Linked DNA regions of Homo sapiens. The protein of the gene in region 3 purifies or fractionates together with the protein of the main gene of each other region. This does not show direct contact. Each region holds a gene or a part of one and is shown on either strand. Other genes may lie near its edges. The genes, in order: IMPACT, ANKS6, ETS2 and DET1.

Region 1 (8,324 bases), on a different chromosome or scaffold from region 3:
ATATAAAATTTATTTATCAGTTTCACTGTTGTTAGACCTCTGAGTTGGGAAAACTATGAATTTATATTCTTTATATTGTGTAGCTATAATATAATGCCTTCTGCTAATGAAACTGTTTCTACTTCATATGATGGAATTAAATACATCAATAATACATCCAATTGGTATTCCTTAAAGAGCATCATGATTTCCAGTTATTATACCTCTTAAAACAAGTTTAAGGATCATGGCTGGGCGTGGTGGCTCACGCCTGCAATCCCAACCCTTTGGGAGGCCGAGGGAGTGGATCACCTGAGTTCAGGAGTTTGAGACCAGCCTGGCCAACATGGTGAAACCCCCGTCTCTACTAAAATACAAAAATTAGCTGGGCATGGTGGCGTGTGCCTGTAATTCCAGCTACTCGGGAGGCTGAGGCAGGAAAATTGCTTGAACCTGGGAGGCGGAGGTTGCAGTGAGCCGAGTTTGTGCCATTGAACTCCAGCCTGGGCAACAGAGCAAGACTCCATCTCCAAAAAAAAAAAAAAAAAAAAGAATCACTAATTAACCCTCAATTCTGTTGAGAGACTTAATCGTCCTGGCTACTACTACCTGCCTCACTTAGGATGAAAAGTTATTCAAGACAAGAAAGTAGGTTTATGTAAGATGTTTTACACCTTCCCTCTGATACTGTTCTTTTCCTGAATTGATTTTGACTGCTGTACTAACATAGTAATAAGTCAAATACAGTATTAGGGTCAATATGAACTACTGACCAATTGATAGTATTTATTTATGAGTATGATTTTTATCCTTTTTCTTTTCATGGTAGATCCTGTTTTCAAAAGATATCATATGTCAAATCCACACACAAATAAATGATTAAAATGGGAGCTACTTAGGCTAGAGCATAAATGAGAGCCCTGGATGCTCCCCACTCTTTCATTTCCTCTTTGTTCCCTTCTACTAGTCCTGGACACCATTCAAAAGCCTTAAAACTCAGAGCACCTTTTAAAAGCTACTGTGTAATGACACAGGAAACCCCTCACCTTCAAACAGAATGAATATTCCCCCTGGTCTACCATGTTTTCCTAAGAGGCTTAGGGAAACTAACAATAACATTCAAAATTTTAAAATATTAAAATGAAACATAATATCACAGCAACCTATTTTTATGTTGAATACTACTCGATTACGAAACAAATTTGTTTAAACGAAAACTAGGCCGGGCGTGGTGGCTCACGCCTATAATAATCCCAGCACTCTGGGAGGATGAGGTGGGTAGGTCATTTGAGGTCAGCCTGGCCAACATGGCGAAACCCAATCTCTACTAAAAATACAAAAATTAGACAGGCATGGTGGCATGTGCCAGTAATCCCAGATACGTAGGAGGCTGAGGCAGGAGAATCACTGAACTTGGGAGGCAAGGTTGCATTGAACTGAGATCGTGCCACTGCACTCCAGCCCGGGCAACAGAGCAAGACTCTATCTCAAAAAAACAAACAAACAAACAAAAACTGAACTCAAGCTGGGCACAATGGTGCATGCTTGTAGTCCCAGCTACTCGGAGGCTGAGGTAGAAGGATCACTTGAGCCCAGGAGTTCAAGGTCAACTTGGGCAACACAGCGAGACCTTGTCTCTCAAAAAAAACCTCTTAAAGGCATTTTACTAGCTTTAATTTCCAGGGCTGCACTTTCAGTTAATATATTTGTATTTGTGAGCACAGACTAAAATTTAATCCTGAAACATCAGGAAACAGCTAAGGATTTCAATACAGAAATATAAAAACATGATGTTAACTAAAAACGTTAATAGCCTTTCTTAGTTTCAATTTCTTCCATCACTAAATCAAAACTCTAGAAAGTAGGGGGAAAAGAGTAAATTTCCATTTTTTCCTTGCCATTCTGATAAGACTTGGCAAACACCAAAATTGCCAACAGGCAGGAAAAAATTAATCTTATCTGCAAATTAATAACTCCTTCCTAAAACTGGAGAAAATTAGTAAATTTCTCTATCATCTCAAAGAACAATACATAATACTACCAACCCACTCTCCTCAAAAGAAATTAGTTAGTAACATTATACCTGTCCGAGTTTCACTGATATCAAAATCCAATGCTTTAAGCGAACTTTCCGGCTGACATGCTAAAATGAGATCATCTTCACATTCAACATCTTCCTCTTCAGTTTTCTTCTTTACATCTGGGCCTATGTGAATATGAGACACAATTACTTTATGACGCAGGTAAGAAACGATGCTTTTTAAAAAAAAATCACTGGGTCTTGGGTTCTAAATACCACTCTTCAACGAAAGGAACCAGCACTCAGCCCGTAGGAGAACTGGTTGATTCCTGAGTTGGAGCAAGGAAACTACAAGATGAACCTGGAACCTCATGTGGATCCACAAACTGGGAAATGCTCAAAAAGAGATGGGGCTTATAAAAAGAACACAGGAGTTAACCTGAAGGGGCTCTTAAAGGTCAAAGCTAGAACAATTTGAGCAACAAAAAAATATGATAGGATGGCATTTTAACCCATGGACTGAAATAATATACATGAGTCCATACTGATATAAATAATAAACAGATAAATAAATACATAAATGGGAAGAGACATCCCTTCCTCATAATAGAATTCCAATTACTAAATGAGGAAGGAATGAAGAAAATAGAAAATCATCATCAGGCAAACACCACAGTAATAAATATTGTTGACAAGTTCCATGGATAGATACTAAAATTAGTGGCAGAAAGTTTAAGGAGAAACAGGATATTAGCATAGCTTCAAAGTATCTCCCTCAAGCTACAAAGAGAAAGACAGTGACTGCAATGGTTAATCTTACATGTCAACTTGTCTAGGCCACAGTACCCATATATTTGTTTACTTTTGTTTGACACAGAGTCTCATTCCGTCACCCAAGCTGGAGTGCAGTGGCACCATCTCAGCTCGCTGCAACCTCCGCCTCCCAGGTTCAAGTGATTCTCCTGCCTCAGCCTCCCAAGTAGCTGCAATTACAGGTGCGTACCACCACGCCTGGCTAATTCTTTTTTTTTTTTTTTTTTTTTTTGAGCCGGAGTCTCGCTCTGTCGCCCAGGCTGGAGTGCAGTGGCGCGATCTCGGCTCACTGCAGGCTCCGCCTCCCGGGTTCACGCCATTCTCCTGCCTCAGCCTCCCGAGTAGCTGGGACTACAGGCACCCGCCACCGCGCCCGGCTAATTTTTTGTATTTTTAGTACAGACGGGGTTTCATCGTGTTAGCCAGAATGGTTTCGATCTCCTGACCTCGTGATCCGCCCGCCTCGGCCTCCCAACGTGCTGGGTAATTCTTGTATTTTTAGTAGAGACGGGGTTTCACCATGTTGGCCAGGCTGGTCCTGAACTCCTGACCTTAGGTGATCCACCCACCTCGGCCTCCCAAAGTGCTGGGATTATAGGTGCAAGCCACTGTGCCCAGCCTCAATACCCATATATTTGGTTAAACACTATTTTAGATTTTTCTCTGAAGGTATTTTTTGGATGAGATTAACAATTAAGTCAGTTGAATTTGAGTAAAGCAGACTGTCTTCCATATGGGCCTCATCCAATCAGCTGATGGCCTTAACATTAAAAGACTGACCTCCCCAGAAGAGGACATTTTTCCAGCAGACCATCTTTGTTTTCAAACCGCAACATTCATTCTTCCCTGGGTCCCCAGCCTGCCAGCCTATCCTGCAAATTTTGGACTTGCCACCTTCCACAACTGTATAAGCCAATTTCTTAAAATATATTTCTCTCTCTTTGTGTGTGGGTACATACACACATGTATATACACACATATATTCAATTGGTTCTGTTTCTCTGGAGAACCCTGACTACAGCATTTACAGTGGAGACATTTGGCGAACACCACCGTAACCGAGACATCAAGGTAAATATCACCAATAATAAGGCATATGATACAATAGGCACAGTGACTCACACCTGTAATCCAAGCACTTTGGGAGATCAAGGCAGGAGGATCACTTGAGCTTAGGAGTTTGAGATCAGCCTGGGCAACATAGGGAGACCTCGTCTGTAGAAAAAATTTTAAAAGTAGCTGGGAGTACACCACCACTCCCAGCTACTAATCTCACTCCAATCATGAGAAAACAATGGACAAACCCAAATTGAGGGGCATTCTACAAAATAACTATCAGTAGTCTTCATAAGTGTCAAGGTTATAAGTCAAGGAAACACTGAACAACTGTTTACAGACTAAAGGAGAGTAAAGAGAAACAACAATGGAAAGCAATGTAGAATCCTAGACAAGACCCTAGACAGAATGGGACAGCCCAAGGTTTCATAACATTTTCAGAATGGCACACAATTTAAAACTTATGAATTATTTCTGGAAATTTCCATTTAATATTTTCAGACAACAGGTGACCACAGGTAACTGAAACCATGGAAAGCCAAATCTCAGATGAGGAGGAATACTGTAATACAAAATCAAAGAGGCTAAACCTTATAGAAATAAATAACTATAATTACATGAGCAATTAAACTTTTCAGAGAAACTTGTATTTTATAATATACAAACCATAAACCAGAATACAGATTTTCACATTAAATTTCAACTAGAGTATCTACATAAAAATGTAGTTATTATAAGTTAAAAGAGTATTGATAGTATTTTTCAATCCTACCTGGTTCTGTCATCTGAGATTTTTGTATAAGAACATCTCTTATTTTCTCCACCCACAGGTAAAGAATACTTTCACCGATATTCTGACTAAACAAAATTCAGGGGAAAAAAAAAATTGTTATTTCAAAAATCATCTTCTCAAATTCAAGAAGATACAGACATTTGCAATCCAAGACATTATAAACAATCTAACCATTTCTTTTTTAAAATAATTTATAAAAACCTGGGGTTTATCAACATTTGTGTCTGAGTAGTTAATACAGGTTATAGCAACGTTAAAAATTCCAGTTGACTCCAAAATTAACATGGCTTACTTTAAAATAAGCAGAAGAGCTGTAACCAAAGAGGGGAATAAACATTTCCAAACTAGATGGATTAAAGAAATATAAATGTGACTTAGTTTCTGTAAGTGGATACAATCTTTCAGTATCGATGTCTGATCACTGCTTGCTTTTTTAAAGTTTTTTAAGAATTTCAAACCCCTTATTTGGTACACTTATCATTTAGTATACTTATCTCAACAAGAAAGAATGTAAAGCATATGGGAAACTCCTTCAGGGAGTCAATTTACAAGACCTAAAAGACAATTCAACAATTTTATATTCATATCTTGTTTCTGACAAAACATTCTATTGCCTAAATTGATTCATTTTGGTTCCAAATGATGTTTGGTTGCCTCAGGTAACTAAATCCATCTCAAAGGATCACTGAGAAAAAGAATGTGTCACAGGTTTTAAAGTCATGTCCATAGTTATGTTAAATGATGGTAGCAGCAATAAAATAAAGGCCCAAGTGTCTGCTCTTTAGAAAAAGACACTAATTGTAGTAAGTATGGTATGTGTTTAAAGATATCACCACACTACTATATAGCAACACCTCACCTCCTTCCTCTAAAAGTTTCCCTTGAAACCATTATCTCTCTTTATCACTACTCATCAGCACCCACCAAAACTTTCGAAACAAGAGACAGAAGAAAACAACATTGTTTTTAAATAATTCTATACCCTCAAATCCTCCCCATCACACCCACAATTCCTAGTACTAAAACTAAATACTTGTATTGGTTGATATAACAGTAAAGCTATTCACTAAAATGCACTAAGCTGTGTGAAGTTAAACTAATCACTTGATCTGAGTTTCTGTCACCTAATTTTCAATATTATAAGCTGGATGAGAAGATTTTTGAAATAAGAACATCCCAGAGCCGGGCGTGGTGTAATCAAAACACTTTGGTGGGCCGGGGTGGGCAGATCACTTGAGCTCAAGAGTTCGAGACCAGCCTGGGCAACTTGGCAAAACCCCATCTCTACAAAAAAAATACAAAAATTAGCCAGATGTGGTGGTGCGTGCCTGTAATACCAGCTACTCAGGAAGCTGAGGTGGGAGGATTGCTTGAACCTGGGAGGTGGAGGTTGCAGTGAGTGGAGATCGTGCCACTGCACTCCAGCCTGGGCAACAGAAAAAGACCCCTTCTCAAAACAAAAACAAAAACAAAACAAAAAAAAACAGGCCAGATGTGGCAGCTCACACCTGTAATCTCAGCACCGTAGGAGGATAGCTTAAAACCAAGAGTTTGAGACCAGCCTGAGCAACAAAGCGAGACTCCGTTTCTGTAAGAAATTAAAAAACTTAGCCAGGCACAGTGGTGTGTGCCTGTAATCTCAGCTACTTAGGAGGCTGAGGTGGGAGGATCACTTGAACCTGGAAGTTTGGAGGCTGAAGTGAGCTATGATTGCACCACTGCACTCCAGCCTGGGCGACACAGCAAGACTTCATCTCAAAAAAATAAAAAAATAAAATTTTTAAAGAACAAAAAAATGATAGCTGCTAGTTTAATGCTTACAATATTATCCCCTTTTTACAGATGAGAAAACAGACACAAAGAGATGACACTATTTAAAAAACTGACTCCAAAAGCCTGACTGAAACAGCCTTAACCTCAGCTCGACTAAACTTTATATGGGCCCATTCCTGACTCTAGGCCCTTACCTCCCTTTTCTTAGAGCATTTTCTTCAGAAAACTTGTCATTGTAAATTCCTTCTCCATCTCTTTGAGATATATGTAAATCTTTTTACAGAAAACTTTAATTGGTTTTACAACCCAGGAAATGTCTTTCTCAAGGACCTGGAAACCATCCCTTTGAAACACAGCATCAAAGAAGACACTGCCCTTATCTTCCAGTCTCTGTGGGAGAATAGGAGGCTAACTTCAACGGGTACCTATTAGTAAACACAGATGGCCTACTCACAAAGAGAAATATTTGCAAACTCAACAATAACTCAATATGCCCAACACACCCGATTAACTGCCCCACATAATATCTTTCAGTATTTTTCCACTAGCTCATCCTGGCCCTTAAAAACCCTTCTGCCTTTTGTTTCAGAGGAGTTGAGTTCACACTTAGTTCTGGCCTCCTTCCCCTATTGCAGCGGCCTTGAATACAGTCTTCCTTGTCTGTTTGACTTTATCCAGTGTAATTTTTGATTCAAGAAGCCTCACTCACCAACATTAAAACCTAACATGCCATGATACATCGAAATGTGAAGAGATGTAGAAAATTTCAAAAATTATTTTCTCAGATTTCTAAATTAAATATTGCTATAATAGAGCATCACAAAGTCAAATACTATAAAAAACTTGTAATCCTTTTCATTTTCTCTTAAACAGTATCATATTCTAAGTATTTTAAGTGTATTTACTTTTTGTTTTATCAAAAGTTATTTTCATTTATTCAAAATATTCACATGCAAAATATTTAAATAAAAATTAAGGACTGGGCACAGTAGCATATGCCTGTAATTTCAACATTTTGATATGCAGAGACAGATAGATCACTTGAGGCCAGGAATTTCAGACAAGTCTGGGCAACGTAGCAAGACCCCTTCTTTACAAAAAAATACAAAAATTAGCCAGTGGTGGCACACCTATAAACCCAGATACTCAGGAGGCTAAGGTGGGAGGATCACTTGGGCCCAGGAGGTCAAGGCTACAGTGAACCATGATCATGCCACTGCACTCCAGCCTGGGTAACAGAGATAGACCCCACCTCAGAAAAAAAAAAAAGTAGGTACAACAACTAAATATACATCTAATTAATCACCAAATCCTAGCTTTTATATATATATATACACACACATATATATACACATATATATACACATATATATACACATATATATACACATATATATACACACATATATATACACTTATATAATACACATATATATACACACACACACACATATATATATATATATATATTTTTTTTTTTTTTGAGACAGAGTTTTGCTCTTGTTGCCCAGGCTGGAGTGCAATGGCACGATCTCAGCTCACCGCAACCTCTGCCTCCCGGGTTCAGGCGATTCTCCTGCCTCAGCCTCCCAAGTAGCTGGGATTACAGGTATGCACCACCACATTCAGCTAATTTTGTAGAGATGGGGTTTCTCCATATTGGTCAGGCTGGTTTCGAACTCCTGACCTCAGGTGATCCGCCTGCCTCAGCCTCCCAAAGTGCTGGGATTACAGGCATGAGCCACTGCGCCTGGCCAATATATTTTTAAGTATTTCTTTAACTGACCTTCTTCTCCATTCATATTCTTTTTGCCTTAATAAAGGCCTCCACTATATCCCTCCTGAGTTACTGACTGCTCTTCTAAAGAGCCCCTTCCCTTCTTCACAGGC
Region 2 (8,324 bases), on a different chromosome or scaffold from region 3:
GGTGGGGTCTTCTCATGCCAAGACCTTTTCACAGAAAAGAGTGTCACCTGGTCTTAGTGTTGGCTGCTAAGCAACCATCTGACACAAGTTAATCACTGACAGCAGAGCCTGGCCCCAAGAGGCAGGGGCAGCTGTGTCCTGACACCCAGTGACTCTGGGCAGGTCCCTTCCTCGCTTTGGGCTTCAGTTTTTTTCGTCTATATCCAAGCAGTCCCAGGGACCCTGCCCCAACCCAAGGAAAAGAAATCAGCTCCAACTCCACACCACAACCTCAGTGGGGAGTCAGAGGTGTCGCAATGACAGTTACAGCATCAAAAGTACCCTGTCCTGCTGCTAATGAAAGGCAGAGACCAGGGGACCTCCAAGGCCTTGGTGGGGGCTGGATTTCCGGGAACTGCACAGTAAGAGCTGGGGCTCCTATTATTTATTTCATAATCTGTCATTATCAATAGCACAGCCTGCACCCTACCTGGGGCTCTTCCCAGGGATCCCCCAGGGCCAACACACTCCCTCAGGTCCTGCATGTCTGCTGCAGTCCCACCTTCTCAAGGTTGCCCAACCACTCCATTTGACACAGCAGGATGAATTGTCCCAGCTTTGCCACACCCAACCTCTTTACACTGCCCTTTTTTTTTTTTTTTTAACCCTGTGGCACTTACCACCTATCCTACTATATATTTAATATGCTTATTTCCTACTGACTGCCTGTCTCCCCTTATCAAGGCCAAGGTCCTCAAGGTCAGGGATTTGGATCTCATTTGTTCACTGATGTATCCAAAGTGCCTAGAAAGGTGCCTGATACATAGCAGGCCTCAGTACGTCTTTGTAAAGTATCGGAATGAATGTATCATCAATCAAAACATAATAGTTTCCATTTATTGGATGTCGTCTATGTGCCAGGGCACTGCGATGAAAATTTTACAGGCCTGATCTTACTATTCCTCACAAAAATCTCCCAAGAAAAGAGCCTTTATTATGACTATCTTATGAAAAAAGACACTGTAGTCCTGCAGGGCCAATTAAGATGACCAAGACCACCCAGGTACAGAGTGGGAGAACTGAGCCTCAGACTAGTTCTGCTCAATGGGAACATGACCAGATCCTGCTGGAAGACCCGAGGTTCGCTCCTGTCAAATAACGCCGACAACACTATGGAGTAATCCACTTCCCATGTGCTCCCTCTGGGCCAGGCAGGATCTCACATGAACCCCACAGCAGCCCTGAGGCGGGTATCACTCCAGCACCCATTTGTGGAGAAGGAAATGGGAGCTTGGTGAACTGAGGCAGCTGGTTCAAGGTCCCTTGGCCAGCAGGGGCACAGCCAGCATCGAACCAAGTGGACAGTGACCTTGGCCACATCCACCAATGTGTCTGAGCCACTGCATCTTGGGGAAATGAGGGCATCGCCATCCCATGATGCCAGGACAACCCCTAAAATGAGGCCTGTCAGAAGCTAAGCCCGAGGGCACTCCGTGAAGATTCAAGATGCAGAGGCTAAGGAAACCTGGGATGGAGAACGCATGCACAACAGAAGAGGCACAGCTCGGCAGGCACGGGCAGGTGCAAGTTCTGGAGTGTTCACTTCTGAGCCTGAATTCCCTCCCCTGCAAAATGGGGGAATACCCTCCTCAGAGGGTCCCTGCGAGGGTGAGGGGAGATTCAGCATGGCAGGTGTGCTGGGCACGGCAGGGCCTGGGAAGGGCAGATCCTTTCCCCATCCCTGCCACAAACAACCCAAACCTTTAAAGGAGAGCAATGGCCTTGTGTCAAAAACAAAAACAAAACAAAACCCTGTCCTAGGAGACTGGGGCCCTAATTTCTAATAGCAAGCCTTTATGAGTCCCTAACACTCTACTGGGCTGAGTATCTCACACGCCAGAGGATAACCTGCCTTCTGCTCACCACCACCCCGTAGTAGTTGTCATTGTGTCCATTTCACAGATGAGGCAAAGGCTCAGAAGAGTCATGTGTTAAACCAGCTTCTAGAGCCCATGCAGGAGCTGCAGGTGGGAGAATCACCTCTAGGTGCTCTTCCCATGGAATCCTCACCTCCTGAGTGTCACTCACTCAGCTTCCAATGGGTGTGTGACCTTTGACCAGCTTTCTTCCCTCTCTGGGCCTCAGTTTCCCACCTGGACAAAGTAAGAGGTCTCTTGGCTTCAGGTAGTTCTTCCTAAACTTCTTTTTCCTTTTCATTTGAGCATCCTCTTCATTTTTGCCACCTCTCTGTCATTACAGGCTTTTAAAACATGTTTATTTCAGACTTGTTCTGATTGGATGGTGTATTTCTTTTTTTTTTTTTTTGGAGAGTGTATTTCTAATAAGCATTTACCAAATTTTCAGCATCTCTTGATTGATGGGGCTATTCTATATTCTTTCAATGGTAACAAACTTAACACTTTCAGGTCTTTTTAGCCAATGTGCCTGAAGCTACTTTCTTCAGTGCTTGACCTCTCAGAGCTAGATGTTTATATACACTGCAGCCCACCTACTGTTACTCCCTGGCTGTGAGTCCTGCCGTCGAAGTCAGGCCTTTTACATAGACAGAGGGTACCAAGGCTGTGTGTTGCGATCTTATTGCAAACCGTGCATTAAAGGTTTTGAAACGTGGTATGTCCTATGGCAGATTTGCTAAGGATTGTTTAGACAACTCTTTACATGCCAGAGAGATGGCAAGAAGTTAAAAAAAAAAAAAAAAAAAAGATGCACTGCTAGATGTTTTTTAAAAAACTAATTTTCATCAATTTTACATGAACTAGTGTTTGAGAAATGATCAGGGCAGAGGAGGTCAGGCACACTATTGTAGAACAAGGGCTGGCAAACTATAGCCCATGGCTCAAATATATCCCACTGCTTGTTTTTGTAGTTATAATTTATTGGAACCTAGCCATACCTGACTCATTTACATATTATATGCATAGCCACACCCATTCATTTACTCATTACATATGTAAGGCTGCTTTCACTCTAGCAGAAGTGACTACTGTAGTTTTAACAGAGACTGTATGGTCCATACAGTCTATTTGGCCTTTTACAGAAAAAGTTTGCCAAACCTTGTTGTAGAAGGGCCCCAGAACCACCTGCATCAGAATGATGTGCTTGGGGAGAGCAGCCTTGTTATAGAGGCTTCCAGGCTCTTGCCCAGGGCTACCAAATCACTCTGCAGAGAGTGGGCCCAGAACCTGCATGTCACAGGCAATCCCCCCGATACTTAAGCACACCACTTCCTCAGTCTCAGTGGTCTGCAGGGCTGGACTCTGAGTTCTGCGTGTCCTTCCAGTAGAGCAATCCTCAGCTTAAGCCACATAAACACAATTTGGGGTCCTCTGTGAAGCCACGGGGGGCATGCAGCCTGACCTGTTTTGGGCCTGACGGTGGTCAGCGGGTCCAGGTAGTCTACAAGGTCCCTGTGCTTGCAGTCCAGTGCAACCTCGAAGGCGGTCTTCTCCAGCACGCTGAGGTGGTCAGGGTTGGCGCCCTTCTCCACCAGCTGCTGGGCCACTCCAAGCCGCCCAGTGAGTGCGGCCAGCATCAGCGGGCTCCAGCCCACGGTCCGGGCTGCGTGGTTGGGGTCCGCGCCCCACTCCATCAGTAGACGCACCACGGCCTCGTGCCCGTGCTGGATGGCAGCCATCAGGGCTGTGATGTCCAAGGGCTCATCCCTGCTGCCGCCCAACCCCAGTTGCTCGCCTGAAGGGTGGTGATGGTCCACAAAGGCACCGGCTTCCAGGAGCAGCTTCACCACACCCAGGTGGCCGCCCCGAGAAGCCACAGTGAGCACACTGGCCCCCAGCCGGTTCTGGGCATTGACATCAGCCCCGTGATCCAACAGGAGGTGTGCCACACTCACATGCCCAAATCTGCCAGGAAGATGGAGAATTAGTGACACTGAACACACAGCACTCGGGGGCCAGCTTATGTCATCCTTAATTGGCATGAATTATTAGTCCTGACAGCTGCTCATGATAAGAGGTCTTATTCTGGCGCCAGGCACTGTGCCAGCCACATGGATGCAGATGCATCATCATGAAGGTGAGCAGCTGCCCTGCCTGGGTTCAAATCCAGCTCTCCCCACCACCAGCTGCATGACCTTTAGGAAGAACTTTGATTTCTTTGTGCCTTCATTTCCTGATCTGCAAAATGGGGATATAACTGTACCTACTTCAAGGGTTGTTGGGGATTAAATGAGTTACATGTAAAGCACCTGGCTCTGTGCCTGGCCACAGGAAACATCACATCAATGTTAGCGATTGTTAGGTATTATAATTGTTCATGTTACGTTATTCAACGTGCCAAGGGTTACCCGGCTGGTAAGGGGTGGCATCAGGGTCAGGACAGGTCTGTGTGAATGCCGCTGCCCTTGCTTTTTCTCTTACACCATGCTGCCTCCTACATTTCAGACAGTCGATTTTATTCTGCTTTATAGCCTGGGAATCTGTCTCTCTGCCTGTGCTCTAATTTCCCCACAGGCAGAGCCCATGTCTGATTCATTTCTACCCTCCCCATCCCCAAAAGCACACACCCCATGCCAAGAGGTGTGGCAAGGTTGTGGTCAGCAGATAGGCTGGGCATTGCGGCCTGGAGGCCTGCTGCCACCTGCTGGCAGGAATGTTTGTTGCAGGCGGCTGAGGACCCAGCCTAGGCCAGATCTTCCTCAATGAAGTCACTGCTGGGCCCCTGAAGAGAAAGATCTGCACCCACCAACTTCCTAGTACCAGGAGAAGGAAAACAGGTACCTCTTCCCAGCAAAATCTCTTCCTTCTTTTAACACCAGAGGGCAGAAAAGTTCTGTTTTGTGGTGTCTCTGGTGGGCTCGGAGCTGTGTATCTCCAAGCTGGAAGCGGCCCTGGACTAACAAGAAAACAATGACAAGACAGGGGCTGTCTACTCCAGGTTTTCGAGACCACAAAGCCACTGTCATGTCTGCATCTGTGAGGCAGCTTTCTGGGTTTCTCGATGCTCAGCCCTCCTTCCCGGGAGCCAGTTTTGCACCTCATCTAAACCCAAGACCTCCCTCCTCCTGGCGGCTGGCGGCCAGGCCAGGGCTGAACTCTGTCTGAGGCTCCGGCTGAATACCTTCTGGGATGTGAACCTGAACAGCATGGGGCTACTCAGCCACGAAGCAAGAGCCTGGTGACACAGCTCCATCAGCTGCAGGGGGCTGGGCCTCTTGACCTCCACTCCCAGAGTGGAAAAGGACAAGGCAAATTGAAACCAACTCAATGCAGAAAGCTGCACCCCAATGTCTCCCCGCCTCCAGTCTCGTTCCCTCCTGCCCATCCTCCATGCGACTCCCAAATGATATTCTCCAAACCCAAATCTGTCACTCCCCAGCTTCTGATTGCCGAAGACCTGACTGCTTTGCCAACCTCACTTCCTCCTGCTCCCAAACCACACCTTCCCGCCTTCCCCACACCTTCACCATCCTGACCCCACCAGAGGACTCTCCTGTCCTCATCTACTCAGCACACCCCCACCGTGTCCTGCTTCAGGAGTCATATCTCACCCACTCTGAGCAGCTTCCAGACCACCCCTCAACCAGGCTAGGTCAGTGCCCCTCTTCTGAGCACCTAATTCCACGGGCTCGCCTCTGGCTGCACGTGAGCCCTCTTTCCCTAATTGTCTCTCCTATTCAGTGGCAGGCTCTCCAAGGACAGGACAGGGTTCCACGCATATTGTTTCCCCAGCCCCTACCATAGTGGCTGATCCACATCGGAGCTCAGTAAATTTGGTCAAACAAGCCAAGTAAATGAATGCATAAATGGCATAACCACATAGGGGAAGGTCCAGAGGTGAGCAGTGGAAATCCCTGAAGAACTGGTGTATCCTCCACTGTAGTACATTTCTAAAAGATTACACTATTTAGTTATCAAGCATGAGATAAAATCTAGCATAATCCCTAACAGCAGATTACAAGGTGCGTCACATTTTTATCTCATTTGATCTTAATAAACCCCGAGATAAACTCACAGATTAGGAAACTGAAGATTACAGTGGAAAGCAATTAATCTAAAGCCTCTCAATTTGAACGTGATAGAGTCAAAAGTTGCACCTGGACTCAAAATCGAAGCTCCAGTATAACCAATTTTTAAGGAGGAAGAAAAGGGGTGAATTAGAGCAGAAATAGTGAAATTTGGAATGTTTTCTGAATTAGTGAGTAGCCCAAGAGAGCACTCAACTATGCTGAAAATATAAAAGGATCCAAGCAAGGCTGAGATAATGTTGTGGATGCTAAGTTTCTAATAGGTAACTGCCGGAGATGGGCATGCTAGGGGCTTTCTGAACAGGTGCTGTGATTACTGATGAATTTCAGCAATTAACACCTGTGTTTAAAGAGCTGGCACACATTTTCCCCTCTCAAAGCACTGGGCTGAGAGTCCAGCTCTGCCCCACTGGCAGGCAGGAAATGAAGGGTAGGGAAGGAAGGTAAACACTATGCAACCCTGTCCCTTGGAGAGAAGTCTCTGGCAAATTTGGCAAGCCGCTTCCAGGCACCAACACCAAGAGGGAAACTATCAGTTACAGGATTCATGGCTGGGAGCACAGGCTCTGGAGCCACCTCCCTAGGTGTGAATCTGACTCGCCACTTGGTAGCTATGTTACTTGAGCAAGTTATTTAACTTCTCTGTTCCTCAATTCCTCATTTATGAAATGAGGATGACAATAGTACCTCCTTCCTAAGGTTTTGTATGGATTGAATGACTTAATTCATTTAAAGCACTTAGCACAGTGCTTGACAGAAAGTCAGTGCTCAATAAAGGTTGTTTTTTGTTTTGTTTTGTTCTGGTTTTTTGAGATGGAGTCTCGCTCTGTCGCCAGGCTGGAGTGCAGTGGCGCGATCTCAGCTTACTGCAACCTCCGCCTCCCAGGTTCAAGCGATTCTCCTGCCTCAGCCTCCCGAGTAGCTGGGACTACAGGTGCGTGCCACCATGCCCGTGCCACCACGCCCAGCTAATTTTTGTATTTTTAGTAGAGACAGGGTTTCACTATGTTGGCCAGGCTGGTCTCGATCTCCTGACCTCCTGATCTGCCCGCCTCGGCCTCCCAAAGTGCTGGGATTACAGGCGTGAGCCACCGCACCTGGCCAAAGGTTACCTATTATTTTAAGAACATGAAAAAACATGCCCCAGCGCGGTGGCTCACGCCTGTAATCGCAGCACTTTGGGAGGCCGAGGTGGGCGTTTCACGAAATCAGGAGATTGAGACCAGCCTGGCCAACACAGTGAAACCCGGTCTCTACTAAAAATACAAAAAGTAGCTGGGCGTGGTGGCACGTGACTGTAATCCCAGCTACTCCGGAGGCTGAGACAGGAGAATCGCTTGAACCCAGGAGGCGGAGGTTGCAGTGAGTCGAGATCACGCCACTGCACTCCAGCCTGGTGACAGAGCGAGACTCCGTCTCAAAAAAAAAAAAAAAAAGAACAGGAAAAAACACTAAGGTCACCATTTCTAATACTAAAACACCCACAAAAGACCAAAGGCACAGGGTGTCTAATAGTCTGGCCTGATCCACACAGAGAGCTGGGACGATAAATAGATGCTTGCTCAGACCCAGCGTGGTGGCTGCCAGGGGTGTGGTTTTGAGCAGGATTCTGGGGGCGTATCCAGATCCAAGGAAGAAGAGCACAAGGCTGGAAGGTGTCAGCACACAGGCCATTCATTTGCCTACCCCGATGTGAGGGACAGACACACTGTACATCCTTCTGGAAGTCTTCCATATATACTACTCCTCAACTTGACCTTTTCTTATGAATTACGCAGCAGAAAGCTGGAGCACAACTCAACACAGGCAGAGATGCTACCTGAATATAGAGTCGGTGTCACACCAACTGAGGAACAGCACATTTTAAAATACCCAGGCTCAAGACTATCCTGCAGAACTTGGTTAAAACTGATGATCTGGGGTCTCTGAGACACTCTGAGGCATGTCAGTGCTGTAGTCACAAACCTCACTCAGTAAATTCCTCAGGGGGCTCACCAGGGCCCCTGTGCACGCACTTGGTGGATTGCAGAGATGAGACACACATAACACATCAGTGGCTCCCAAACCTACCATACAAGAGAATCACTGGGGAGCCTCTTCTCACACAGAGTCCCTGTCTCTTACTCCCCTCACTGCCCTGGGCCTTCTAAATCACAATCTCCAGAAAAGGAACTCAGGAATCTGCACTTAGACAAGCATCCTGGTGATTCTGATGTGTGGCCAGGTTTGGGTACTGAGGAAGCCAGTCAGCATTAACATGGTGTGATGGATGCTACCACAGAGGCCTTTCTGCTGCGGAGGGACCAGAGAACAGGGAGATATCATGGCAGGCTTCACAGAA
Region 3 (4,641 bases):
TTAAGTTAATATATTAAATACACAAATCTGAAAATAACAGAATCTTACAATGGTGTCGAGAGGAGCCTCAGAGACCCCTTTACCAAACACCTGACCCTCCTGTTACATTGAGAAAAATTCAACTAGGCTGTGTGTGTAAGAAAAATGACCCTTGACAAGGCCGTCTGAGCACAATGCAGTTAAAAGGCAAATGACCCGATAAACACTGAAAAATCAAACAATGAAATACACTACTTTATCTTTGGAAGCATTTATTTTGAAATGTTTGCCATGAAACAATTTAACTGAAACTAGAGATGCTTTTCCACATCAATTCCAATGGTTTGGAAAATAGTAATACATGACAAAATTCCTTAACGTTTCATTTTATAACAAGTAAAGTGTCTTAAAAATGAACCCCCTCCCCGCCCCCAGGCCAGGCGGGGTGGCTTATGCCTGTAACCCCAGTGCTTTATGAGGTTGAGGCCAGAGGATCACTTGAGCCCAGGAGTTCAAGTCTGCGGTGAACTACGATCAAGCCACTGTACTCCCGCCTGGGCAACAGAGAAGGACCCTGTTGCTTAAAACCAAAAACGAAAAAACAAATAAAACAAAACAAAAAAAACCCAAATCACCTACTAAGGGGAAAGATTTCCAAAGGAAATAGGTTTAAAGTTAAACTAAACTATCTGCAGAAAAGAAGAGACACACAGAAAGATAAAACCTTACACTAACTCGATTTCTGAGCATCTTACATAACATTTATGAAAGAAATACCTTTTAATGTAAGACTCATTTGAAAGTAACCGATAATATCTGGATTCATCATCGCCTAAATTGTTGAGGAACACGTGAAGAAAGACTATATTTTTCCAACATAAGCTGGAAATCCCATGTTATGTGTAATACAATGACCCATCTGTTGAGTCATCAATAAGAAAATGTGTAACACATTTACAAATAAAATCGGTTACCCGCTTTCTTTTTAGAAATGCAGAACAATGAATGACGCATTACAAAAGAGGGCAGGCAGAGGCTGGAGCCCAGCCCAAAAAAATCCAAGTCAATGATGACCAACTGCCTGAGATCTACGAGGAAAACCGATCAATCAGGCAAGTGCAAATTACTCATCTGGATTTACAAACTACTTTAGAGCAGAGCTAATTTTGGTGAAACCTCCAATAAACTTTTAAAGTTCCCACAAGCATTGCCCAGGTGACTAAGAAATGCCTTTCCTAACCGTAAATTCTTTTTTTTTTTTTTTAAAGCCAGGAAGCCAAAAGACAATACAAATCTGTGCTTCCTATTTCAACACATCAATTTCAGCAACGACTGCTTCTTTTCAGAAACCGCATAAGCATCGTCAAATTATTTGAATTAATAGAAGGATTTTTCTAAGGGGTGTGGTTTCAACTTAATACCATGATTTCTTGTACCACTTCTGCCATGCTTAAAATGTCCGGCCAAATCAAACAAGCAGACTCACTAGGCTGAAGTTTGATGACCTTTAGAATACTGCAGAAAGGACTGTGCTGAGTTTTGCCTCTTTGGGTCATATCAGACAAATAACCTCAATAATGATATACAAAGGAAAATGTAATATGCCAGAGACGTACATCATCATTATGCAAGACGCTAAACTTTGAGGAGGCCAATTTTAAAATCATGCTTCTGAAACATGTTTACTACATAATACTGAAAACAATCAAATCTTGCTGTCATATTTGGAGAAGACAAGTGGGAGATTACCAGTTTGTGCTACTAAAGAATGTTCCCAAAAGGAATGATGATAGAAGCTACATAAAATGTTTATGCAGCAGAGAGGGCGCTTTCATTTTTCATCTGGTTTTTGGTTTAACATAAGTAGGCCTGCTTGTTCTCTGAGCCAGTAACAGGCTACCTACAATTCCACGGGCGCTGCCCTTTCTGATAGGAGCTGTAGCGGTTGGGTCTGTCTGCCTCTTCTCTCTCATTTCAGTTCTTAAACAGCTTCCCATCAACCAAGGAAACTCCTGGGTAGACAGAAAAGGCAGTAGAGACAGCCTCTCCAGCTGTTTTATTGGGAGTTATAGGATTTTCACCTGGAAGGAGCCTCAGAAAACAAGCTATAAAGGCCTTTGGTTTCATATCGTGGAGGAGAAGAACAACACACATCAAGATACCCATTCTGCAGACCAGAAAACTGAGGACCAGAGCAAGTAAGCAAATAGTCTATAGTCACATGGCCAATAAATTAAGAAGCTAGGGCTACAACCAGTTTTCTGGGACCCAGGCCTTTTTTTTCTTTCCTCCTAGAGATCGAGTTTTCCAATTAAAAAAAAAAATTAAGACTTGCCCACTCACCTTGAGTGTCCCTCTGTAACTGTTAGCCACAGGGGCTACCTGGTCCATATTCTTGATTCCGAAATCATTCATCTTAAAAAAGAAAAAAAAAAAGTCAAAGAGGCAAAAGATTAAGTACACTAAACTCATCATTGGTGGCATCAAGACTTGATCCTGGCTGAGTTCTACAGCTAACAGGTAATTCAAAAGTGAATGCAGGGAATTCTTGTTTAAATGGCTGTCCTCCCAAAGGTCTCAAGAGGAAAGCATTTCTCAGTATCACAATGGGATATGCTGTTTCAGTGATTGAATAATAATGCTGATTCCTCACTGAATTCCACTTAGATGTCACAGAAAAAGTCACTTGCTGGCTGGCTGGTCAGAGCCTCCTTGCTGGGTTAGCAGGGCAAGAGGGCCTGGGTCAGGCTTTTCATTCACATTTCCATGGCCAGCTTAGGTGAGTGCTTGGGTGGGTACAGTGGGGCAGTGGGCCGCCTCCTGTCTGCTCTGGACACAATCAGCTTAACCTGAGAGCTTCAGGACAGCTGCAGGGGTCATTTCTAGAGACAGGAAAGGAGTCCAGGAAGCCCCCTCTCTTCCCTTCCACTCTCCAGGCTGTAAGAAAGCACACACCCAGGGAAGGGATCAAAGGGAGAACTGAAGACCAAACCCCCTTACATGGTCCCAGATCTTCCTGCTTTGAATACAGAGCTCAAAATATTTCTGCTTTGTGTGTTGCTTGGCTGTGCACTTCTTCAAGAGGAACTGATTCCAAGCACGGATCTGCCTTACTTCCTCTGACTGAGTCTTAATCTTCTACTAGGCCTGGGCTAAGCAATATGGTACCCACTTGCCATGTGTGGCTACAGAGCTCTCAACCAGTGGCTAGTACAAATCCACACATACACACTAGCTCTCAAAGACTTAGTGGAAAAAAGAAAAAAGCTCAATAATTTTTATACATACATAATATTTCGAATATATTAGGTTAATTTGAAATACACTGAAATCAATTTCACCGGCTTTATTGTTTTTAACATGGCTATTACAATGAGGCTTGTAATTGGACAATGACATAATAGGCTGAAAATTTATTTGGAGCTCTAAAATGTAATTGTTCAGCCAGGTAAGTTACATATCAGTAAGAAAGATACTTAGATAATAGAGTAACTAAAACTCATTTTCAGAGACCTTGGGTTAGCACCGATGAATGGCCTTCACCTCTAGGGTGATTCCTTGCCCTCCCAGGTTCATGGCTATGGAACTGAAGGCTGGTGGCAAAGCTCTAAGCCTAGCTCCATGGCCTCCACTGGGTGCTCTTACCTGTTTACAACTGAGAACTTTTTAAGTAATTCAGACAACATTCAACTGATAGAACTTACTGGATGTGGCGAAATAACAAAGGCTCACCGAACTATTTAATTTGCATTTATTTTCTTGTTTTCTCTTTATGATCAACATTATGGCTAAACCAGACCTTCCAAGAACCCTGCTACCCAACACACACCCAACACACACACACACACACACACACACATACACACACACCCCTCTTGGCTAAAAGGCAGCAGGTGAGGCCAGAGGCATCAGAAAATTCTGTTAAAACACTCGGAGTGCAGGTAATGATCATGGTAGCCAACAAAGGCTGGTCAGCACTGGCAATAAATAATAGTCCTATGAGAGGACAGAGAGGGGCAGCAGTCTTGGGTCCAAAGTGGCCACATTCACTCAGAATCTCCACTTGGTGGATTATGCCACTTATATTCACTCAACAATCAATAGTCTCTCCTATTGATGGCTGCCATTGCCAGAATGCCTAGTTACTAAGAGCTAAGCCCCGTGCTGGGGGACCATCCACTCCTACCTAATTGAATCTTCCTGCATCCCTGAGAGGCAGACGTCATACAGTGAAGCAACGGAGGCCCAGCAACATGGACAATCTGCCCAGGATCCACATAGCTACCAGAGGGGCCACCGCAGGGCAAAGTGGAGATCAAACCCCAGTTGAGTATGGTCCTAAATCCTGAGTCCTCCACACAGTCCTCTGTGCCGGGAGAACATGAATGATGAGGAATGGACCCTTCCCACCCATCCTGATATTATCAGATCAGGCCCTTCTCACTACTCCTTCCAATGTGAAATGCTCCTTCCTCTAGAGCTTTATGTCATTTCTCTGCATGAAATAAGTCCTGGTAGCTGCTGATTAAAGAAATAAACAAGCCTCAAACAGAAGGCCAAAATCATAGACATCTTGGGTGTTGCCAGTTATCCATCCAGAGCCGGATGGGTCAGCTCTTTTTCTTCCTTAGGCTTGCAGACTGCTTGCTGACTTGATTCTGT
Region 4 (4,298 bases), on a different chromosome or scaffold from region 3:
CCAAGCAAGGTTCTAAACCCAGCCTAGGCCACCGTCTCTGAGAAAACTCGCCAGAAGAAAAGTGGGAAATTGACTTTACAGAAGTAAAACCACACCGGGCTAGGTACAAATAGCTTCTAGTACTAGTAGACACCTTCTCCAGATAGACTGAAGCATTTGCTACCAAAAATGAAACTGCCAATACGGTAGTTAAGTTCCTACTCAATAAAATCATCCCTCAATATGGGCTGCCTGCTGCCGCAGGGTGATAATACACCTGCCTTCACCTCGTCCATAGCTCAGTGGGTCAGTTAGGCGTTAAACATTCAGTGGAAGCTCCATTGTGCCTATCGACCCCAGAGCTCTGGGCAGGTAGAACACATGAACCGCACCCTAAAAAGACACTCTTACAAAATTAATTTTAAAAACCGGTAAAAATTGGGTAAGTCTCCTTCCTTTAGCCCTACTTAGAGTAAGGTGCACCCTTTATCAGGCTAGGTTCTCACCTTTTAAAATCATGTATGGGAGGGCGCCGCCTATCTTGCTTAAGCTAAGAGATGCCCAACTGGCAGAAATATCACAAGCTAATTTATTACAGTACCTACAATCTCCCCAACAGGTACAAGATATCACCCTGCCACTTGTTCAAGGAAACCATCCCAATCCAATTCCTAACCAGACGGGGTCCTGCCATTCGTTCCAGCCAGGAGAACTAGTGTTTGTTAAAAAGTTTCAGAAACAAGGACTCACTCCTGCTTTGAAAAGACTTCACACCGTCATCCTCACGCCAATGGCTCTGAAGGTGGATGGCATTCCTGCTTAGATTCATCACTCCTGCATCAAAAAGGCCAACAGAGCCCTACTAAAAACAGGGGTCCCCAGGCCTCGGTCAGGCCCCTTCTAAAACTGTGCCTAAGTCAGGACGTGTATTTGCAAACACCACTTGGAGGGCCGGTACCTCTAAGGAAGTCTCCTTTGCAGTTGATTTTATGTATACTGTTCCCAAAGCCAGCCTGTACCCACGAAGAGCAACACAATCTGCTTGTCCCAAAAGCAGGAAGTGTCGACCTTGTAGCAGGATTTGGGTGCTCTGGGAGCCAAACTGGATGTGTGGAAGTGCCAAAGGTGCAGAAAAAGAACTCCAAAATGTTGACTTTTACCTCTGTCCTGGGAATCACCCTGACGCTAGCTGTCGAGATACTTATCAGTTTTTCTGCCCTGATTGGACATGTGTAAACTTAGCCACCTACTCTGGGGGATCAACCAGATCTTCATTCGGTAACTCGTGCTTCTCATCCTAAATTATGTACTAAAAAAAAAATTGTAATCCTCTTACAATAATATTACGGCATGTCATGGAAATTAACATTTTATATTCCAGGATTTGATGTTGGGACTATGTTCACCATCCAAAATAAATAAATAAATAATAGAAATAAAAATCCTGGTCTCATGGAGCCCACCCAAGCCAATCGGGCCTTTAACTGCTCTAGGTGACCCTATGTTCCAGAAACCCCCTGACAAAGTTGATTTAACTGTTCCTCCACCATTCTTAGTCATAAAAGATACCCTCCAAAAAGTTCGAGAATATCTAGATAGGCAACAACAGGAACGAGAAAATAACATCCCCTGGTATCAAAACATGTTCCACTGGAACCCCTGGCTAACTACTTTAATCACTGGGTTAGCTGGACCTCTCCTCATCATACTATTAAGTTTAATTTTTAGGCCTTGTATATTAAATTGGTTTCTTAATTTTGTAAAACAATGCATAGCTTCTGTCAAACTTATGTATCTTAAGACTCCCCTTGTTAAAACTGAGGAATCAATGATTTGATTCCCCAAAAACACAAGTGGGGAATGTAATGCCCAACCTGGTTTTTACTAACTCTGTTTTTAGACTCTCCCTTAGCTAAGAGAGCCAGACAGACTCCATCTTGGCTCTTTCACTGGCAGCCCCTTCCTCAAGGACTTAACTTGTGCAAGCTGACTCCCAGCACATCCAAGAATGCAATTAACTGATAAGATACTGTGGCAAGCTATATCCACAGTCCCCAAGAATTCATCTGATTGATAACACCCAAAGCCCCACGTCTATCACCTTGTAATAGTCATAAAGCCCCTGCACCTGGAACTGTTTACTTTCCTGTAACCATTTATCCTTTTAACTTTTTGACTACCTAACTTCTGTAAAATTGTTTTAACTAGACCCCCCCTCCCCTTCCTAAACCAAGGTATAAAAGTTAATCAAGCCCCTTCCTCAGGGCCGAGAGAATTTTGAGCGTTAGCGGTCTCTCGGTCACCGGCTAATAAAGGACTCTTAATTCGTCTCAAAGTGTGGCGTTTTCTCTAACACCCCTGGGTACAACACACTAACTCACTGTGTGGTACTAAGTCCTTTACCCTTGCTGGGTCTCAGTTTCCCTATGGGAGAAGGTGCACATGTCCCTCAATTCCTTGCGACGGCCTCTAAACCAGAAGGGGATGCCAAGGGGCGGGCACACATACCCAAAAGGGCGCCCCCGGAAAGAAAAGCCTGGGGCGGGGCCTCAAAGGGAAGAGAATGCTGAGGGAGGGCGGGGGCCGCGGGGCCTCTGGGCATCAGCGTCATGCAGGGAGGAGCCTGCCGGGGAGGGTCTGACGGGCTTGGAGGCTGGGCCAAAAATGGTAAGTCCTCACCTGTCTGGTCCGGGCTCAAAGAGCCAGGGCGAGGGATGCCCCAGCCTGTTCTGTGCGCGCCTCCCCCTGCCCCGCCCCCGCCATGCCCCAGGACTCCTGCACCCGCGGCTGCACGTTCCCGTTTCCGCCAGCCACCGGAACTGCGGCCCAGCAAAAAGGGAAGTAGGGGAGAGCACGGCACTGTTCAGCCAACACTAAGAGACAGGTACAGCGCACCCTTGTGCCCGGAGGAAGGATCGAAGCCGTAGAGGCTCCATGGCTCCGAAGGAAAAATTAAAATGGCACCTAACCTGGCAATCTCTGTGAGTCCCAATGGCAGTGTCTCTGCACCTGCTGGGCACATTTGAAAAAATATGAATAGAATTAATTTTTCACCTATTGATTAGATGCTGAGAAACTTCCTACTCTGTTATCTTCTAGATGGCGAGCACCTTGAAGACTGAGATTGTATTGATCATCTCTGACTAACAGGGAATTTGCCTTGCTAGTTTTAAGATGGAGTTGATTTTAAAATGATGTCACTCTGGCTCTCGTAGGCTCCTGCTTCCCTAACAAAAAGACCTTCAACATCATTAATTATCAGAGAAATGCAAATCAAAACAATGAGATACTACTTCATACCCCTTAGGATGGCTATAATATCTTTAAAAGGAAGATATCACATACTGGTGAGGAGGTGGAGAAATCAAAAGCCTCATACACTGCTGCTGGGATGGGTGCAGTCACTTTCATGGGCGTCCGTGTGAAGAGACCACCAAACAGGCTTTGTGTGAGCAATAAAGCTGTTTATTTCACCTGGGTGCAGGTGGGCTGAGTCCGAAAAGAGAGTCAGCGAAGGGAGATAAGGGTGGGGCTGTTTTATAGGATTTGGGTAGGTAAAGGAAAATTACAGTCAAAGGGGGCTTGTTCTCTCACGGGCAGGAGTGGGGGTCGCAAGGTGCTCAGTGGGGGTGCTTTTTGAGCCAGAATGAGCTAGGAAAAGGACTTTTACAAGGTAATGTCATCACTTAAGGCAAGGACCGGTCATTTACACTTCTTTTGTGGTGGAATGTCATCAGTTAAGGTGGGGCAGGGCATACTCACTTCTTTTGTGATTCTTCACTTATTTCAGGCCATCTGGGCTTATATGTGCAAGTCACAAGGGATGCGATGGCTTGGCTTGGGCTCAAAGGCCTGACATTCCTGCCTTCTTATATTAATAAGAAAAATAAAAATAGTGTTGAAGTGTTGGGGCGGCAAAAATTTTTGGGGGGTGGTATGGAGAGAGAATGAGCGATGTTTCTCAGGGCTGCCTCAAGCGGGATTAGGGGTGGCGTGGGAACCTAGAGTGGGAGAGATTAAGCTGAAGGGAGGTCTTGTGGTAAGGGGTGATATTGTGGGGATGTTAGAAGAAACATTTGTCATATAGAATGATTGGTGATGGCCTGGATATGGTTTTGGATGAATTGAGAAACCAAATGGAATAACAAAAGGAGAAAAACAGGTATAAAAGGTCTAAGAATTGGGATGACTCAGGATATCTGATTAGAGAGTGCCTAAGGAGATTCAGCATAGTCCTGCCAGCAAAGATTATTTATTTACTTCAAGAGTTAAGAGTGGCAGTTTGTGGATAGCACCTGGAGATATCAGCTGTGATGGCT

What was found.
Region 1: the proteins of ETS2 (region 3) and IMPACT purify together in Homo sapiens (affinity purification with mass spectrometry; one large-scale study listed by BioGRID and IntAct). This does not show direct contact.
Region 2: the proteins of ETS2 (region 3) and ANKS6 purify together in Homo sapiens (affinity purification with mass spectrometry; one large-scale study listed by BioGRID and IntAct). This does not show direct contact.
Region 4: the proteins of ETS2 (region 3) and DET1 purify together in Homo sapiens (affinity purification with western blotting, with the first as the bait; one study listed by BioGRID). This does not show direct contact.

The regions. Positions count from the first base shown.
Region 1 is NC_000018.10:24,434,357-24,442,680, reverse strand, and holds part of IMPACT (protein IMPACT), read right to left. Parts: intron 4,727-8,324; coding exon 4,641-4,726; intron 2,186-4,640; coding exon 2,063-2,185; intron 1-2,062. UniProt on the Homo sapiens protein: Translational regulator that ensures constant high levels of translation upon a variety of stress conditions, such as amino acid starvation, UV-C irradiation, proteasome inhibitor treatment and glucose deprivation.
Region 2 is NC_000009.12:98,786,747-98,795,070, forward strand, and holds part of ANKS6 (ankyrin repeat and SAM domain-containing protein 6), read right to left. Parts: intron 3,861-8,324; coding exon 3,358-3,860; intron 1-3,357.
Region 3 is NC_000021.9:38,807,788-38,812,428, reverse strand, and holds part of ETS2 (protein C-ets-2), read right to left. Parts: exon of another isoform or gene 2,633-4,641; intron 2,395-2,632; coding exon 2,323-2,394; intron 1-2,322. UniProt on the Homo sapiens protein: Transcription factor activating transcription. Binds specifically the DNA GGAA/T core motif (Ets-binding site or EBS) in gene promoters and stimulates transcription.
Region 4 is NC_000015.10:88,543,882-88,548,179, forward strand, and holds the start of DET1 (DET1 homolog), read right to left. Parts: upstream 2,801-4,298; 5' UTR 2,659-2,800; intron 2,495-2,658; exon of another isoform or gene 2,383-2,494; intron 814-2,382; exon of another isoform or gene 730-813; intron 1-729. UniProt on the Homo sapiens protein: Component of the E3 ubiquitin ligase DCX DET1-COP1 complex, which is required for ubiquitination and subsequent degradation of target proteins. The complex is involved in JUN ubiquitination and degradation.